3 linked regions of the Homo sapiens genome follow. The protein of the gene in region 3 purifies or fractionates together with the protein of the main gene of each other region. This does not show direct contact. Each region holds a gene or a part of one and is shown on either strand. Other genes may lie near its edges.

Region 1 (3,656 bases), on a different chromosome or scaffold from region 3:
AAGGTTAGAATTTGTTTTTGTTTTTTTGTTTTGTTTTGTTTTTTGAGACAGAGTTTCACTCTTGTTGTCCAGGCTGGAGTGCAATGGCAAGATCTCGGCTCACTGCAACCTCCGCCTCCTGGGTTCAAGTGATTCTCCTGCCTCAGCCTCCCGGGTTCAAGTGATTCTCCTGCCTCAGCCTCCCAAGTAGCTACGATTACAGGCATGTGCCACCATGCCCGACTAATTTTGTATTTTTAGTAAAGATGAGGTTTCTCCATGTTGGTCAGGCTGGTCTCCAACTCCTGACCTCAGGTGATCCACCTGCCTCGGCCTCCCAAAGTGCTGGGATTACAGGCATGAGCCACCGCGCCCGGCCTATAAAATCATTTTTAATAAATAATATTAAATGCTATACAAATGAAGTTCTTCTAGTCTCTTGCCTACCACCTCAAAAGGAAATGATATCATTATAATAAACCTATTATAACATAAAAGCTAATGTTTTACCTGGAAATGTTCTATGAACTCTAAGGAAAAAAGTATACTGTAAAGATGGTCAATTCCCGCATTTCTTACCATTGCTAGAAGAGGATGACAAACAAGGAGAAGTAAGTAGAGGGAAAGAGAAAAACTGAATAAATCTCCTTCATCTCCAAATAAGGCAAGCTCATCAACCAGTATGCTCCTCTCTCTATCTCCCTCTCTTCACTGACTGCCCCAAGGTCCCAGACAATACAGAATCTATAAATTATATCTGTCCACTTTACCACTAATTAAGATATTACTATCAATTGTATTAATTGTAAAAATGCTTAGATTAGCTTATGGAATGTTGGCTTAAGTCATTAAATAACATTACAATGCTTTTATTATAGTTTTGATGGTTTGTAAATATTGTTTATACTCTAACCAAATTTAATCTGGTTCTAGATATTATTAGAATTTGATATCTCATTTAAGGGATATTATAGAAAAATCAGTCACAACATTGATAAAAACTTAAAACTCATTCATTGTCCATTGAAAGTCTTGATCAAATAAGACTTAGACAGATACACAGGTTCATTTTAGTTATACGTTAAAGGTAATTAAGAGGACTCTCCCATTTTCATTTTACTTTTGTTCAAGTTTACAATCAGAAAGTTATAGCATTTATGCACTTTCAAGTTTATATCATGAAGTTTATTCATTAGAAAAACTAATTCTAACCGTCTTCATGTGCCTCATTGCTACATGATATAAACTCATTACTCAGGTTCTAAAATAAACATTAGCTTAATTTTCCATTTTCATCTAAGATTATTATCAATGTTTTATTATTTTATAATGTGAACTTTATACTGACCAGTCATCAAGGCTGTGACAAGATCTTTCAAGTTCGTTTTCATATTTATTCAGTTTATGGAAAAATAAATTTTAAAAACCCAAGTTATAAAATACAACAAATACAGTGAGCATTTCGTAGTGATCTTTAAAAGTTTTTCTTTTATTCCAGTGCTTCGAGGAAGAAGTTATAGTATAACTATACAATCACTATAGAAGAAAAGGCAGAATAGCAAAGGCAAATTTGAACCACATTAACACTACCCTTATATTGGTATAATTTGTTAATTAAAAGAAGATTTATAAATTCAAAACGTATTTCTCCTTCACATTGTCATTTTCTGACCAAAAAAAAGACTACCACAAAGAGGTATTTTTTTAAAGTAGATGGGTAAGAAAATTTAAATGAAATTAGCCCTATAACTCTGCTTTCAGTAAGAGTACAAAAGTAACCCTTATATTGACAAATACGGCATAATTCCATAGGTCCCATTTGCTCTTCCTCCGTTAAAAGGAAAATGTGTAGTATCATATAAAGTTTATATGGGTTTTATGTTCAGAATATTGTAGAGATTAAGAAAAACCTTTGCCTGGTGGGAGGTAAGATTAACTTTATTGGTTTGATTTCCCATTATTCCAAATGGAAGACTGTTGGATGATGGGGGGTAGCTGGGGAAAGGAAAAAAATGCCAGGAGATTAGAATGTTGAAAGAAAGAGAAGTTGAGATTTGAAACTAATCCATTTTTTAAAAATCTTACAACCAAGCATGGTAGCTCACGCCTGTGGGAGGCCAAGGTGGGATGATCACTTGAGGTCAGGAGTTCAAGACCAGCCTGGGCAACATGGCAAGACCCTGTCTCTTTTAAACTTAGAAACAAACAAACAAACAAAAATCTTTTTAATAAAATAAAGGAGCCGGGTACAGTGACTCACGCCTGTAATCCCAGCATTTTAGGAGGCCAAGGTGTGAGGACCACTTGACCCCAGGAGTTCAAGACAAACCTGGGCAACATACCAAGGTCTCATCTCTACAAATATTAAAAAATAATTAGCCACGCATGGTGGCATGCACCCATAATCCCAGATACTCCAGAGGCTAAGGCGGGAGAATGGCTTGAACCAGGGAGTTCAAGGCTGCAGTGAGCCGTGATCACGCCACTACTGCACTCCAACCTGGGCAACATAGAGAGACAACCCCCAACCCCAATCTCAAAAAAAAAAAAAAAAAAATTAAAGAAAATAAAATGTTAAATCTACACATCCCCATATAATATTCTTCTGTTGGAGATTTTTTTACAGGTTCTTTAAAAATCAGTCGTAAATATCTTTTACTTTTAAATATGTTTAATTGTTTCACTATAACAAGCTGCAATGTAAAAACAATTCAAACTCCAAGAAAGAAACTCCATACTATACGGTAGTGAAATATGAGCCAGAGAATCAATAAGAGGATGCTACACTACTGTTGAAGACCAGAAGTTGATATCTCCTTTGAAAAGTATCAACAGAAGCAGCATTGATGCAGGGTACAAAAGTACTATAATAAAGCTGGCTGTGGTAGCACATGCCTATAGTCCCAGCTACTCAAGAGACTGAGGTAGGAGGATTGCTTGAGCCCAGGAGTTCAAGGCCAACCTGGACAAAACAGCAAGATCACATCTCTTTGGGGGAAAAAAAAAAAAAGGTACCATAATAGTAATACTTTTAGTTTCAGAGTTGTTTAAAAATCTTAATTTTATGTTTAGTAAAGTAACTTATTCAAGTTTTTTTAAATATTTACTCTTATGATTGTAAAACTTTCTTTTATATTTATCAATTTGCTATAATATGAAATGATGTATCCACCATTTAACTAAATCAAGAGATTTATTAAATGCAGTTTATCATAAATCAAAAATAACCATTAATGAAATGGAAGAATCTATTTACTTTATCAGCATTGAGATTCTATTTACATAATGAAGAGCTATGGATAATAAACAGCCCAAACACTATCTGCAAAAAAACCAATATTCCAATGATTTTAATATACATATAACTATCAGTTTCTAGGCTTGGATTTAAAGAATATGTGAATGGAAAGAAGTAAATTAACATACTAATTTATTACAGCTTAGAAACCTAAATGAAATGCCACAGGCCACAAAACAACTGCTTCGTATTCAAAGGCACACATTCAATTTGGTAGATCAGCTGGACGCACTGCATTATACTGCAGGAGATAAGGGTTAAGTGACCTGGGGATATTGTTCTCCAGATGTCTAAAAGGTCCATTTTTTTATTGGAATTATCTCTACTTTAAAAAAAAAAAAAAAAGGAATTATATCTACTTTTGATAAATACCTAGCTT
Region 2 (3,656 bases), on a different chromosome or scaffold from region 3:
TGAGGAAATGCAATCAAAAGAAGAATAGAAAGAGAGAGGGGCTCAAAACAGAGTGAAGTTAGTAAGATCATGTCCTGCTGCTGCTGCTGGGCTACAATTTTATCCCTGAGCTCCTTACAGGCTATGCAACAAAGAAAGCAAAATCTGGTCTTTCATTGTTCCTAATATTAATGTATGAACCCCTTTAAAAAAAAACCGCACTGGTCAATTTTGACTTAAGACATTATTATAATTATGGAACTCTTATACCTCCAAGTATAAAATTTGGTATAAACACCATATGCACATAGTTCTTATAATTAGCACACTTGGTTTGATTATTGCTTTATAACATATTACTCCAAAAAACTTAAGGATTCAAACCACCACCATTTTATTAATACTTCTTACAGTCCTGTGGCTTGATTAAGCTGGATGGTTCTTCTGCTGGTGGTCACTGTTGGGTCTGTCATACTGTAGTGAGGTGGTAACTGGGGCTGGCACCTCCAAGTTGGATTATTCACATTTCTGGCACTATAGCAGAGATGCCTGCAAGGCCAGAACTTCTTTCTCTCTCTGTCCATGTGGATAGCTTGGGCTTCTTTACAGCACGGTGGCTGACTCAAAAAGCAAATGTTCTAAGAGGACAAGCCAACAGTATGCAAGTGCTAATTGGGCCTCTGCTTGCATTGCATCTCCTAATATCTTATTGTTCAAGCAAATCCCATGGCCAAGCTCATTGTCAGTGTGGGAGGGGACTACATAAGGGTTTGAACACTCTGTTGGGGCCCACCAGTGTTAATAGTCTACCTCAATGCTTAATATAAAACCTGTGAAATTTGAATTAGCAACATTATGTACTATGATGGAAGATGTTTTTCTGAAACTTAAACATGGTATTGTGAGTTTAGCATAATACAGGTTCCATGTGCTGTGTGATCACTCAGCTCTCCCGCCATTTTCCTCATAGTGAACAGCATTGAAACCTTCACACCTTTTTGGAATACATAGCATGAATACAGTATTTATAAGTCTTCTCTGTGCTTTTCTTATTAGCCAGCAACCAGGAAGTTTCCACCATTTGTCATTCATTTGACTCTAAACCCAATATAGGTGCAGACCCAATAATTGACTAGCAGTGCTCAGTTATGGAGTAGTCTGCCATTTGATCTAGGATATGCTTATTAATATTTAAATATAGTCAGGCATGGTAGTGCATTCCTATAGTCCCAGCTACTCAGTATGCTAAGGCAGGAGGATCATTTGAGCATAGGAGTTTGAATTCAGCCTGGGCAACATAGCAAGACCTCATCTCTAAAAACTAAATACATAAACTAATAACTTAGGAGAAACACATCCTCTTGCAGTTCTCAGACCACAGACGAAGCCCAGCAGAAGAACACCCTATGTAGATGTTGAGAATCTAATGCTAGTCTTGTCACTTTGGCTTAAAATTTGACTTATCTTTTAATATGACATCTTCCTTGTCCCCTCACCTCATAATATAGTTGAAGATGAAGCAAGGCTGTATTGTTAAAGGAGCTAATGAAAAGTGAAATTGCATGTCTGGAGATCACAGTGCTAGAAATGCAACTAGGTTAGGTGCATCTGGGCCCAAGGGGCGTGAGAGGAGGCATTTGTCATTCATTTGGCCTTTCCCCACCTTGTGCTCCTTTAGTGAGGAGAACACCCCACTGGACTTGGATGACCACGGCGGCAGAACCTTTCTCCGTGTCCTGCTCCACTTGACGATGCATGACTACCCACCCCTGGTGTCAGGGGCCCTGCAGCTCCTCTTCCGGCACTTCAGCCAGAGGCAGGAGGTGCTCCAGGCCTTCAAACAGGTAGCTCAGGTCACCCACGTGTGTGTTGTCTGTCCAAGAAGCTGTTGTGTGCACCTAACGGATTGCGTTCATTAAGGTTCAACTGCTGGTTACCAGCCAAGATGTGGACAACTACAAACAGATCAAACAAGACTTGGATCAACTGAGGTCCATCGTGGAAAAGTCAGAGCTTTGGGTGTACAAAGGGCAGGGCCCCGATGAGACTATGGATGGTGCATCTGGAGAAAATGAACATAAGAAAACGGAGGTGAGTGAAACACAAGTTATGCTGCCAAAGTGGATGGATGGGCTTCTCGAAACTAGGGAGCATCCTCTTCTGGTTTTAGGTATAAATGTGATAGGATTTATTTTCAAGAGATCTGCTTGTTAAGTCACCAAGATCACAAGCTGTTTGCCTAGGAAATAAGCTACGAATCAAAGTTTAGCTATGTCTCCTGTGCAGCCTTGGACCATGTAGAAGAGACTGCGATATTGAGTGAATTAGCACCAGGTTTCCCTTACAGACCCACTTGGGAATTGACCTGTTCTCTAGGCATGGCCCAGCCCACTACTATCCCTTCCCAAGGAAACCCATAGCAAGTAGGTAGATGACTGGGGCATAAGCCCAGCATGACTATTGTAAAACAGTATAGAACTCCCTTTCTTTCCTAAAGGTCGATGCTAACTGTAAAAAACTGACAGTAGCCCAAGAGTTGTACAGATCACACTTGTGTTCACTTTGGTTTCTAGGAGGGAAATAACAAGCCACAAAAGCATGAAAGCACCAGCAGCTACAACTACAGAGTGGTCAAAGAGGTAAGCTCCTCCCCCACCACCATTTTTCCTTTCTTTATGAATTCTCTAAGGAGCTTTAGTTTGTGATAGTCAAGTTGAAGGTACACACATTTGAGCTTTTTTCTTCATGTGGTTTAACAGGGAGAAAGTAGAGCTCAGAGGTTAAGCTCATGGGTTTTGGCATCAGATCTGGGCTCCACACCCAGCTCTTCTACTTATTATTTTTGTCCTCAGCTTCCTCACCTTTTGTAGGTGCAACCTTTCGTAGGCACCGCATATTTCTGAAGCTTTACAATTGAAGGAAGGACTAATTGAGAATACTGTCAGGGAGTCATCTAAGTGCCTGGTACACAGTGTCCCCACTGAGAGCTGTAGTTTTTTAGAAACCTTTGCGTACGCTGGTTCAAAGTTGGGAGGCTGGGAGCTTTGTGTGTTTTACCCCAGAGCAAACTCTTCCCAGGGTCTCGGCAATGATGCCAGGTCATTCCATTTTAAGCGATATCTCTGAAACTGTCCCACTTGTTGTTGAAGCCATAATCCCCTGCTTATTCTGGAAGACGTGACCTTAGTCTTATGGATTTGGCTTGATGGAGTCAACAGAAATGCCACATACTGAAGGAATTTTGTTTTACGTTTTTAATGCATTATAATCCCCTTTGCCTCCCTGCCCGCCACCACCCTCTGCAATCTTTTTCCAGCTATAGTTCCTAGTTTTCTGAGACTGATTTCTTTCATTCTACTAGATTTTGATTCGGCTTAGCAAACTCTGTGTTCAAGAGAGTGCCTCAGTGAGAAAGAGCAGGAAGCAGCAACAGCGTCTGCTCCGGAACATGGGCGCGCACGCCGTGGTGCTGGAGCTGCTGCAGATTCCCTATGAGAAGGTGAGCGGTGCCTCATGCACAGCAGCTGCTCTCAGGATGGGGCGGATCCCTGGGTTTCCCCAAACTCTTCACATCTGGATATTGTTAGTGAAGAAATGCATCCAGTGTGACTATTGTGACTACAAAGCAATTTCAGGTATTGATATGAAACAGAGCATCTGAAAAATAAAGTAAAATC
Region 3 (4,107 bases):
TAGGCAAAAGAAGCAGTGAGACCTACAGAGTTACACCTGATCCCAAAAATAGTAGCTTTGAAGTTTACTGTGACATGGAGACCATGGGGGGAGGCTGGACAGTGCTGCAGGCACGTCTCGATGGGAGCACCAACTTCACCAGAACATGGCAAGACTACAAAGCAGGCTTTGGAAACCTCAGAAGGGAATTTTGGCTGGGGAACGATAAAATTCATCTTCTGACCAAGAGTAAGGAAATGATTCTGAGAATAGATCTTGAAGACTTTAATGGTGTCGAACTATATGCCTTGTATGATCAGTTTTATGTGGCTAATGAGTTTCTCAAATATCGTTTACACGTTGGTAACTATAATGGCACAGCTGGAGATGCATTACGTTTCAACAAACATTACAACCACGATCTGAAGTTTTTCACCACTCCAGATAAAGACAATGATCGATATCCTTCTGGGAACTGTGGGCTGTACTACAGTTCAGGCTGGTGGTTTGATGCATGTCTTTCTGCAAACTTAAATGGCAAATATTATCACCAAAAATACAGAGGTGTCCGTAATGGGATTTTCTGGGGTACCTGGCCTGGTGTAAGTGAGGCACACCCTGGTGGCTACAAGTCCTCCTTCAAAGAGGCTAAGATGATGATCAGACCCAAGCACTTTAAGCCATAAATCACTCTGTTCATTCCTCCAGGTATTCGTTATCTAATAGGGCAATTAATTCCTTCAGCACTTTAGAATATGCCTTGTTTCATATTTTTCATAGCTAAAAAATGATGTCTGACGGCTAGGTTCTTATGCTACACAGCATTTGAAATAAAGCTGAAAAACAATGCATTTTAAAGGAGTCCTTTGTTGTTATGCTGTTATCCAATGAACACTTGCAAGCAATTAGCAATATTGAGAATTATACATTAGATTTACAATTCTTTTAATTTCTATTGAAACTTTTTCTATTGCTTGTATTACTTGCTGTATTTAAAAAATAATTGTTGGCTGGGTGTGGTAGCTCACGCCTGTAATCCCAGCACTTTGGAATGTCAAGGCAGGCAGATCACTTGAGGTCAGGAGTTTGAGACCAGCCTGGCCAAACATGTGAAACGCTGTCTCTATTAAAAATACAAAAATTAGCCGGGCATGGTGGTACATGCCTGTAATCCTAGCTACTTGGGAGGCTGAGGCAGGAGAATCGCTTGAACCTGAGAGGAAGAGGTTGCAGTGAGCCAAGACTGAGCCACTGCACTCCAGCATGGGTGACAGAGAAAACTCTGTCTCAAACAAAAAAATAATAAAATTTATTCAGTAGGCTGGATTCTACACAAAGTAATCTGTATTTGGGCCATGATTTAAGCACATCTGAAGGTATATCACTCTTTTCAGGCTATAATTATTTGGGTAATCTTCATTCTGAGACAAACTTAATCTATATCATTTACTTTGCAACAGAACAACCCTACAGCATTTTGGTTCCCAGACTAAGGGAACTAATATCTATATAATTAAACTTGTTCATTTATCATTCATGAAATATAAAATACTTGTCATTTAAACCGTTTAAAAATGTGGTAGCATAATGTCACCCCAAAAAGCATTCAGAAAGCAATGTAACTGTGAAGACCAGGGTTTAAAGGTAATTCATTTATAGTTTATAACTCCTTAGATGTTTGATGTTGAAAACTGCTTTAACATGAAAATTATCTTCCTCTGCTCTGTGTGAACAATAGCTTTTAATTTAAGATTGCTCACTACTGTACTAGACTACTGGTAGGTTTTTTTGGGGGGGGTGGGTAGGGATATGTGGGTAATGAAGCATTTACTTACAGGCTATCATACTCTGAGGCCAATTTTATCTCCAAAGCAATAATATCATTAAGTGATTCACTTCATAGAAGGCTAAGTTTCTCTAGGACAGATAGAAAACATGAATTTTGAAATATATAGAACAGTAGTTAAAATACTATATATTTCAACCCTGGCTGGTAGATTGCTTATTTTACTATCAGAAACTAAAAGATAGATTTTTACCCAAACAGAAGTATCTGTAATTTTTATAATTCATCAATTCTGGAATGCTATATATAATATTTAAAAGACTTTTTAAATGTGTTTAATTTCATCATCGTAAAAAGGGATCATCTCAGAGAGAACAGCAGTATTCTGCGTATTTTTAAAAATGCTCTAGAGTAACATTTGAAGTAATTCACTGTAGTGTATGCCAGTCCTAGAAATAATTTTTTTAATTTCTGGTGTCTGTTTCTAATACACTAACCAAGTTTTCAAAATATATTTACAAAGATGCATCTTTACCCATTATTTTAAAATGATTAAGGAGGATAGTTGCTTCAGGTAACAAGCTAATTTTTCAAATATTAGGCCCTTACAGAACTATTTAGTCAAAAAGTAAGATATTCCTTTAAAATATATAACCCAAAGCTTTCAGTTAAACATGATATATCACAAATACTATTAAAATGTTAAAGAGAAATGCAAATAGCATTAAATGATGACCAAAATGTAAAATATTGTAGATTTCAAAAGCTGTGTCTCTATTAGGTGGGATACCAAATGTAAATGATGTAACTGACGTTGTTTTTTACTTTTTACTTTTTAAAAAAGACTAAAAACGTTTTGATATTATACAATGTATTTGTTTCAGATAAGGTCATTGTCATTTAGTATATATAATTAATATATGTACAAGTTTAAGTAAATTCCTGTGAGTAAAAATGGACTTATCACAAAACATAGTTCTAAAGAAAGGTATATGCTCATATACACGGTGTCCATTAATTTAATGGGAACTAGGTATAACTTCAGGAGAATTTGGCAAATAATTCATTAATCCATGTAAATATTCAAAAGCTTGTTCTATCCACATTATTTCAAGGGATCACTTTATTTTTCATTATACTTTCACAGCACTTTTCTAGTAAATTCTGTAACACAGAAATTCCATTTTGGAATCATTTCATGTTACCAATAATTCTAGACTTTTATAACATTTAACATGTTGATGGAAATAGATTACATCTGCTAGAACCTTTTGCCTTAACTATTCACCAATATATGCTAATATTCATAAATATGGATTGACTGTTTACAAACATTAGAATCTTGTCTTGGTTCCATTTTGATGGCTAATATTTGTTATCTTAATTAAGACTATTTCTGAGGTCATGATTACTTGAAAATATTGACTAAAACTGGGTCCTTAGAAATTCCAGGTGGAGCTGATTTACCTATGACTGAGGGGAAAAAAAAATCAAATTTTACTGATAATAGTAATGCTCCAAATGAATTAATGACACATCTGTTCAATAAATAAAGAGCTTAAATATACAAAACATAAGAAATCTGGGCAACAAAACTTGTGGTCTTTACTTTTGAATAGCTACCCAAGAAAAGGTTTTAAAGGTAAAAGTTATGAGTAATGTCATCACAATAAGCTCTTGTTTAAAATTCTTTTCTTTTATGTATAATTAGGTTTATGTTTCATGTCTTTTTAAAACCTTATAAAAGATTTAATTATCACATCTATTCTTCAATGTGGAAATATTAAATATTGTTGGTTGTAAAATAATATTTATGTACTTACTTGTGTCTGAAAAGTTGTAAAATGCTTACCTCAGCTATACAATATCTGTGACTCTGAAGACTTTAATGAGTACTATTTCATTAACAAGAAGTCAGAGGCAAATAGAGGAACACCATTATCTTACTTCCCTCTAGAATACTGTTGAAACATTTGAAATACAAAAGTTTCAGTTTCATTTTGTGGCATTCAACTTCCTCTCCTCTTTTTCCGTTATTAGTGTTGCTGCTCTGGTTAGCCCTCTTCATCTCCTTAGGACAACACAAACGCATCTGAATAGTCTGTACCTCTGGTTTCAGTCTATTCCAGTCCAACTTTCATCCCTACCAGGGGGATTGTTCAAAAGTACAATTCTGATCATGTTATTGTCCTGCTTAAAAAACTTTCAACAACGCCTTCTTTTCTTTTTTTTTATTATTTTATTTTATTTTTTTTAGAGACGGAGTCTCACTCTGTCGCCCAGGCTGGAGTGCAATGGCGAGATCTCGGCTCACTGCAACCTCTGCCTCCTGGGTTCACGCC

The links.
Region 1: the proteins of FGL2 (region 3) and FUT8 purify together in Homo sapiens (affinity purification with mass spectrometry; 3 studies listed by BioGRID and IntAct, with this or other methods). This does not show direct contact.
Region 2: the proteins of FGL2 (region 3) and ITPR1 purify together in Homo sapiens (affinity purification with mass spectrometry; one large-scale study listed by BioGRID and IntAct). This does not show direct contact.

What each region holds. Positions count from the first base shown.
Region 1 is NC_000014.9:65,415,649-65,419,304, reverse strand, and holds part of FUT8 (alpha-(1,6)-fucosyltransferase), read right to left. Parts: intron 1-3,656. UniProt on the Homo sapiens protein: Catalyzes the addition of fucose in alpha 1-6 linkage to the first GlcNAc residue, next to the peptide chains in N-glycans.
Region 2 is NC_000003.12:4,681,729-4,685,384, forward strand, and holds part of ITPR1 (inositol 1,4,5-trisphosphate-gated calcium channel ITPR1), read left to right. Parts: intron 1-1,657; coding exon 1,658-1,823; intron 1,824-1,899; coding exon 1,900-2,070; intron 2,071-2,552; coding exon 2,553-2,618; intron 2,619-3,340; coding exon 3,341-3,478; intron 3,479-3,656. UniProt on the Homo sapiens protein: Inositol 1,4,5-trisphosphate-gated calcium channel that, upon inositol 1,4,5-trisphosphate binding, mediates calcium release from the endoplasmic reticulum (ER).
Region 3 is NC_000007.14:77,192,837-77,196,943, reverse strand, and holds the end of FGL2 (fibroleukin precursor), read left to right. Parts: coding exon 1-665; 3' UTR 666-3,575; downstream 3,576-4,107. UniProt on the Homo sapiens protein: May play a role in physiologic lymphocyte functions at mucosal sites.